2 linked regions of the Homo sapiens genome follow. The protein of the gene in region 2 purifies or fractionates together with the protein of the main gene of each other region. This does not show direct contact. Each region holds a gene or a part of one and is shown on either strand. Other genes may lie near its edges. The genes, in order: GLDC and CREG2.

The links.
Region 1: the proteins of CREG2 (region 2) and GLDC purify together in Homo sapiens (affinity purification with mass spectrometry; one large-scale study listed by BioGRID and IntAct). This does not show direct contact.

Annotation. Positions count from the first base shown.
Region 1 is NC_000009.12:6,531,443-6,534,848, forward strand, and holds the end of GLDC (glycine dehydrogenase (decarboxylating), mitochondrial precursor), read right to left. Parts: intron 3,347-3,406; coding exon 3,266-3,346; intron 1,719-3,265; coding exon 1,575-1,718; 3' UTR 1,025-1,574; downstream 1-1,024. UniProt on the Homo sapiens protein: The glycine cleavage system catalyzes the degradation of glycine.
Region 2 is NC_000002.12:101,381,004-101,384,503, forward strand, and holds part of CREG2 (protein CREG2 precursor), read right to left. Parts: intron 2,700-3,500; coding exon 2,530-2,699; intron 2,078-2,529; coding exon of another isoform or gene 2,005-2,077; exon of another isoform or gene 1,688-2,004; coding exon of another isoform or gene 1,672-1,687; exon of another isoform or gene 557-1,671; intron 1-556.

The sequences.
Region 1 (3,406 bases), on a different chromosome or scaffold from region 2:
AGGAAGCAGCCATGCAAGAAACCAAGTAGTCATGATTAGAGCATTTGCTACTTCTAAGGCAAAGTCATTTGTGGCAGGCATGCTAGTTGCCAACCTAAAACCCATTCTCCCCACCTTTTTAAAAATTAACATACTCCTGATTTTGTTTGGGGCAGTCACATGCCCAGGTAACAGACTTCCCCACACTTTCTTGTAGCTGGGAGTGAGATTTGAACCAATTTTGGCCAGCTGCAGCAGTTACTGAGTGGAACATATTCGAAAACATTTCAAAAGAAGCAGATTTGGGTGGAAGCTGCCTTTTGCTCTTCTTTTTTTTTTTTTTTTGAGACAAGGTCTCACTCTGTTGCCCAGGCTGGAGTGCAGTGGTGCAATCTCAGCTCACTGCAACCTCTGCCTCCCAGGTTCAAGCAATTCTCCCACCTCAGCCTCCCAAGTAGCTGGGACTACAGGTATGCACCACCATGCCCGGCTAATTTTTTGTATTTTTAGTAGAGATGGGGTTTCACCATGTTGGCCAGGCTGGTCTCCAACTCCTGACCTCAGGTGATCCTCCCGCCTCAGCCTCCCAAAGTGCTGGGATTACAGGCATGAGCCACCGCGCCTGGCCTTTGCTCTTCCCTTTTAATCCTAACTAGAATGGGTATGTCAGACGCCTGGAAATGCAACAGCCTTCTTGAGACCATGCGGATGAAAATTTTATGCAAAGGAGGGCAGAGCGGGAAAACTGAAGGAGCACCAGTGCTTGGCTTATTACCTCTGGACTTAAATGAGAAAAGATAAATTGCTATTTGATTGACCTTCCATAGCTGGAGTACAGTTACATGCACTCTAACTCAGTTCCAACAAAAAGGGTCAAAGTGGTTTTCACTGTTGACCAAGACAACTGTTTCTTCAGCCAGTCGAAGGCAAAACTGATGATGTAACAATGGCTATTGGGTTGGGTGTTCTCATTGCCCTTCAGCTCCCACTGAATCTAGGTTGTAACGGTGGTAAAACTATAAAGTACACCAAGAGAAAGGCATTCTTCCGATCAAGATGCTTTTATTAGAATACTAATAAATGCAGATTAAAAAAAAAAAAACCTCACACAGAAAAAGAGGAGAACACTCAGAAATGTGATTACAGATTAGGCATATTAGAGGAAAAAGAGTTCTTCAGGGTATACAAAATGTAAACATTTGCCCTGGGATTTCCCACAGATGGCACAGTCCACATGGACTCTTTTGGAACAAAAAAATGTCTATTAAGTCTCCAGGATAGCCTCTATGACATCTGCAAACTTGCCACATTAAAAGTTAAAGTTCCTAAAACTTTCTACGCAAAACACAAAATGGCTCCCAATCCAGGCAACTGGCACATGTGGAAGCAGAATACCAAAGCAAATCCGTCTTCCAACCATCAGCTTCGACTCCCTCCAGCTACTGTATTTACATTTACCTTGACAGAGATTACAGAGATATACACAGTATATAAAACTCCTACTTGAGGCTGGGGTGGGAGATGAAATCTTTCTTGCTTATCAAATGCTCTGGGGAGAGGCATCAAATCAGTCCTTTAAACTTAGGGACAGAGGACTAAGAAGACGCCCTCTTTTGTTCAGAAAATGGAGACTCATAAACTTCCATGGGTGGGCAGGTACAAACCAGGTGCTGATCTCCATATATGTCATCAATCCGGGCAATCGTTGGCCAGAATTTGTTCTCTGGTTTCACGAAGGGCTGCAAAGGACAAAAGATGGAAATGCTGTGAGATGTTCTGGGAGGTTTCTCTTAGGGCAAAGGAGGTGGCAATGCTAGTCCCACAACCTAAGACACCATCAGCCCAGCAAATATTCTGAGAACCTAAAATCCAACCCTACATTACCATTTAAAAAAAAGAGGCATTTCCCAGGAGGCGTGTCCCTGATCACCACCCCTGTTAAGCATCCCTATGTGCTGTTGATATCTGGACCAGTTTATAGCAAAGTTGTGTTTGAAAGACTTCAACTGCTTAAAGAAGACTTTGGAATCTATGTTTATCTGCCCATTATATCCTTAAGTTTGGATATTTAGCTGACCTTCTCTTTTAACATAGGTCTAATTTATTTGCTATGTCATTTTCCATACAATTCAGTTGATTTAAAAGTTAATTTCTCGGCTGGGCGCAGTGGCTCGTGCCTTTAATCCCAGAACTTTGGGAGGCCAAGGCAGGCAGATCAGCTGAGGTCAGAGGTTCGAGACCAGCCTGATCGACATGGAGAAACCCCATCTCTACTAAAAATGCAAAATTAGCCAGGCATGGTGGCACATGCCTGTAATCCCAGTTACTTGGGAGGCTAAGGTAGGAGAATCGCTTTAACCTGGGAGGCAGAGGTTGTGGTGAGCCGAGATGGTGCCATTGCACTCCAGCCTGGACAACAAGAGTAAAACTCTATCTCAAAAAAAAAAAAAAGTTAATTTCTCATACTGTGTATTAAAATAAAAATTTGAACGATTAAAAAAAAAGCATCAGCTGGGCGTGATGGCTCACGCCTGTAATCCCAGCACTTTGGGAGGCCGGGGTGGGCGGATCACGAGTTCAGGAGATCAAGACCTTCCTGGCTAACACAGTGAAACCCCGTCTCTACTAAAAATACAAAAAATTACCCGGGCATGGTGGCAGGCGCCTGTAGTCCCAGCGGGAGGCTGAGGTAGGAGAATGGCGTGAACCCAGGATCATGCCACTGCACTCCAGCCTGGGCAACAGAGCGAGACTCCGTCTCAAAAAAAAAAAAAAAAAAAGAAAGAAAAAAAAAGCATCATTTTGTTTCCTCTCCTCTCCAATGAATACAGGATTTACCATTCTCATTATGTTTTTATACTATTACTGCATAGATCCATAAACAGCACATAGCATAATTTGGCACATTTTTAGCCTTCTCCCTACCTCACTCAAACAGACTACACAGAACCTTCTCCTCCATATAAGAATCAGAAAGGAAAGGAAGGTTGCACTGGGCGCCATCTCCCTGTCCCACAGTGGAGGGAAACACATTGGTCCACTGGGCAGGACTCGTATTCAGTTTTCCCCCACTCTGTTCCCTATGGGTTCCCAGATCTGTGGTTGATACTGTGTGACCTCGCCTCTGAAAGCCAATTTCTTTGCTCCTCATTCCTCTTCAAGACCCTTATTTCACAAGGTGCCCCACATATGGTTTCTGTAATCATGAGGCTAAGAGCGTACACCCGTCAGGATAGGAGCTGGCCCATGCCTTCCCAGCTGGCACATTCAGATTCAGAGAACTTACGAGTGGGAATGCTGCCACCTCTCTGGAATAAGGCCGGTCCCAGTGGGAAGATGTAACGCAGGTCAGGGAGTGTGGAGACATCTGAGACAGAGACACGGACAGAGGAGGGGTCAGAGCAATACACTCTCTTCTCCTCCTACC
Region 2 (3,500 bases):
CTGAGTATGAGCTGCCTTCTGAAGCTGAGAGGAGCAGGTGGCCTTGACCTGTCGTTATCATCGTAAGACATGGGCGCTTTCTTGAATCTCCCCGCTCCTGTGGGAGATGCTGTGAAGCTCTGAAGCACGTGACGACGATCTCTGCCTTTGCTGGAGACCTCTTCAGGCCCGGCGACAGGCAGGAGGGGCACCTTGCTGGTACCTTGCCGGGCTGTCCTTCGAAGCTCTACCCAGGTGTTTGGGTAGCTGCGGACACTTCTACCAGATACCTCGCTATATTCCAGTGGCCCTAGGAACCCCTTGCTTGGCTTGTTTATTCGGGGCTCTTTTTCAATGCCAGCCACATGGCTTTGACTTGTTAAGTCCCTGTGTTCAGTATTGCCAAGATTCTGAAGGTGAAACCTAAAATGTAAAGCTCCACTTGGAATGCGAACCTCACACAGGTGAGTCACATCTGGGCTTACGCCGATTATGGGAAGTCGTAGACCCTAGGGTGACAAAAGCCCCATTGCTTGGTAAGCTTTGCATTGAAGTGTGATGCTTACTAAGGCCAAACTTGGTTTTGTAGGCATTTATTTACATCATATTTCAATACTTCAGAAGCTTAAACAGTGTCAGGGGTATAGCAGTTCTGAGAAACAGTTTTACAAGAAGACATAAACTAAGGGGTACCCATGAGTGCGTCTCATCCTTCCTCTCCCAGGCCAGAGTAACAGGTATGCTGAGATGCTCTTGCCCTTGGCCCCGGGGTGCTCACCTCCAGCCTCGAGCTGCCTCACCCAGTTAGCCAGGGGGCTGCACAGGTGTTTGCGTGTCCTACATGTGGCCTGTCATGAAGAAGGTCCGCATACGTGGCTCTAGGCTGTGCAGGCAAGTCTTCCCAAGGGACTGAAGGAAGTCACCCTGAAATCCTCTCCCCATGAGGACCTCTCCTAAGTCAGATTTCTCACTGCTCCTCGCTCCAGCTCCTGCTGCCATTTGCCTGGGGGTTGCCAGTTGACAAATCCTCCCCCAGCTGGAGTGCTGCCGCAGCTTTGTCCCAAGTATATATTCTGTTGCCTGTCCCCAGAGCGGCTGTGCTCTGGGTTCTGGGAGCCACATGCTCCAGCACGACTGCTTTCAGGATACCTGAATGAGGAAAGCCTGGGAAGCTTAGAAAGGTATCCTGGATTGGAAGGCCGAGGCAGGTGGATCACCTGAGGTCAGGAGTTTGAGACCAGCCTGGTCAACATGGCAAAACCCTGTCTCTACTAAAAATACAAAAATTAGCCAGGCGTGGTGGTGGACACCTGTAATCCCAGCTACTTGGGAGGCTGAGGCAGGGAGAATTGCTTGAACCTGGGAGGCAGAGGTTCACGGTTGCAGTGAACCGAGATTGCGCCACTGCACTCCAGTCTGGGAAACAAGAGCGAAACTCTATCTCGAAAAAAAAAAAAAAAGAGTAAGAAAAGAAAAGAAAGGTATCCTGGAAATGTACTTCTAGTAACAGTAAGCTTGACTGACCAAGAACAGGGAGAATATTCCATGAGAAAGGAAATGTTTCTTTTCCTGGCTTCTTGCTGTAACCTGGTGGGGAACAGGGTCAGCTGAAGTGTCTCCATGTGGTCTGTCGTGGCTGAGGGGAAACAATGGCTTATCCAGGATGCATCTTGCATTGTATAGTTGCTTTGATTAGCCTCTGTAAGAACTAATACATTGTTTGGTTATTATGTTTTCCGTGCTGTGCATAAAGAATAATAGAATTTCACAGATGGGATGAGGCCTGTTGATTTTCTAAAGCATCACTACATTTAGGTGGAGTGACTAAGGTCCTGGAGGTTAAAGGGCTCACCCCAGGCCATCCTGGGCATTTGCTGCTCCTCTGGGAAGGACGAGGGGATCTCACATGCAGCTCCCACACCAGCTCCATGCAGACATTTCCCGGGGAGGATGCGAGTTCAGGCTTTGCATTTTGAATTCAGATAAAGGGGCCTGCATCAATGTTCTGTTAGTGCTTAAATGTCTTTAGAAGTGTTTTCTTTCAGAGAGCTTTTGAAAAAGTGAATTAAAAAATGCTGGCTCCTTATTGCACATATCTCTGGGGACAGGATAGAAATAAATTGGAAAGACAATATATAGACTCTGTGTTGCACGCCTCCGTGCTGGGGAGATCAACTACTGGCTCTTCCTTTACCAACCCTCACTCCCACCCTCGCCCTTTTCCATAACAACAGGAGCTGTCTGGACTCCTGCCAGTGTTGCACAAAGCATTTTACACCTATTTCCAGCACTTGCAATAACCCTCGGAGGCAAAGATTATTATTCCCATTTTACAGATGAAGAAACTGAGGCTCCCAAAGATCAACTAACTTGCTACAAAGCACACTGCTTGGTGAGTGGTGGAATTCTAATTTATCTGATTTCAAGGGTGAACATCAATGTGCATCTCAGAGTTCTGTTAAAGTCATGTGACCCAGAGAGAAACCCACCCCCAACTCTCTGTCAAAAACTTCCCAGGACCCGTGTGAGTGAGGGCAAACCGTCGTCTACCTGCAGAACTCCCCTTCTGATTCTGGCAGCATCAGCGAGGCCATGGGGTTCTTCATCAGATCAGCCACCACGGGGTCCTTGGCTGTCATGTAGAAGAAAGGAATCCCAGTGCTATTGTTGAAGGGGCCATCACTGACGGGCAGGCAGTTCCCAAATGGCAGTCCTTGGATCTAACAAACACCAAAAAAGGCTTTTTCAGTGCAGAGCTGTGGCTCGACTTGATCTGGGAGCTTAGCTTGTGCCTCTGGCTAGGAAATACAACACCAGGGATGAGGGGGGATCATGGCATCACAGTGGCTCTGACAGGTAGTAAATCAAGGTGAGGTGGTCCCCAGTCTGCCCAATTCACTCCGTGGTGGCTCTAGAATTTCTCCACAGGAGATACTCAGCAGTGGCATCCTGTTTGGAAGGGGTGGTGAAAGGATTCTTCTTGAAGCTGCCTGTGCATGGCAGATATACTCACTTTGTTAAATTTCATGTTCTTTTGGGGAGGGACAATGACATTTATGGGAGGTGGTGCTAAGCCTTTTCCACAAGCTGCCTGTTACAGCCCCACCGCTTTAACTCCCAAGGTTAACTGCCTGTCCCAAGTTTTGAGCAACTTTAGGGAGGATGTTTAAGTCTTTAACGTCTTGCCTGCTCTCTGGACTTCAGGAACTTTCTATTATTGTTTCTTTTAGGGCTGCATCACTTTCTCATTTATTAGCTGCATTTTTTATTGTAATCAATAATATTTCATTGTACGACTCAGCAAGTTATGAGAAATTGATTTGTTACCCTTTTTGCATAAAGGAAGTCATAGAAACATGATATGCCAATTTTTCTTCATGATCACCCACTAGGGTGGGAGAAGGGTGGTGCCATAGTTTGGATATCCATCCCTCCAAATCTCATGTTAAATTCTGATCCCCGGTGTTGGAGGGGAGGCCAAGTGGGAAGGGTTTGGGTCATGGGGGTGGATCCCTCATGAA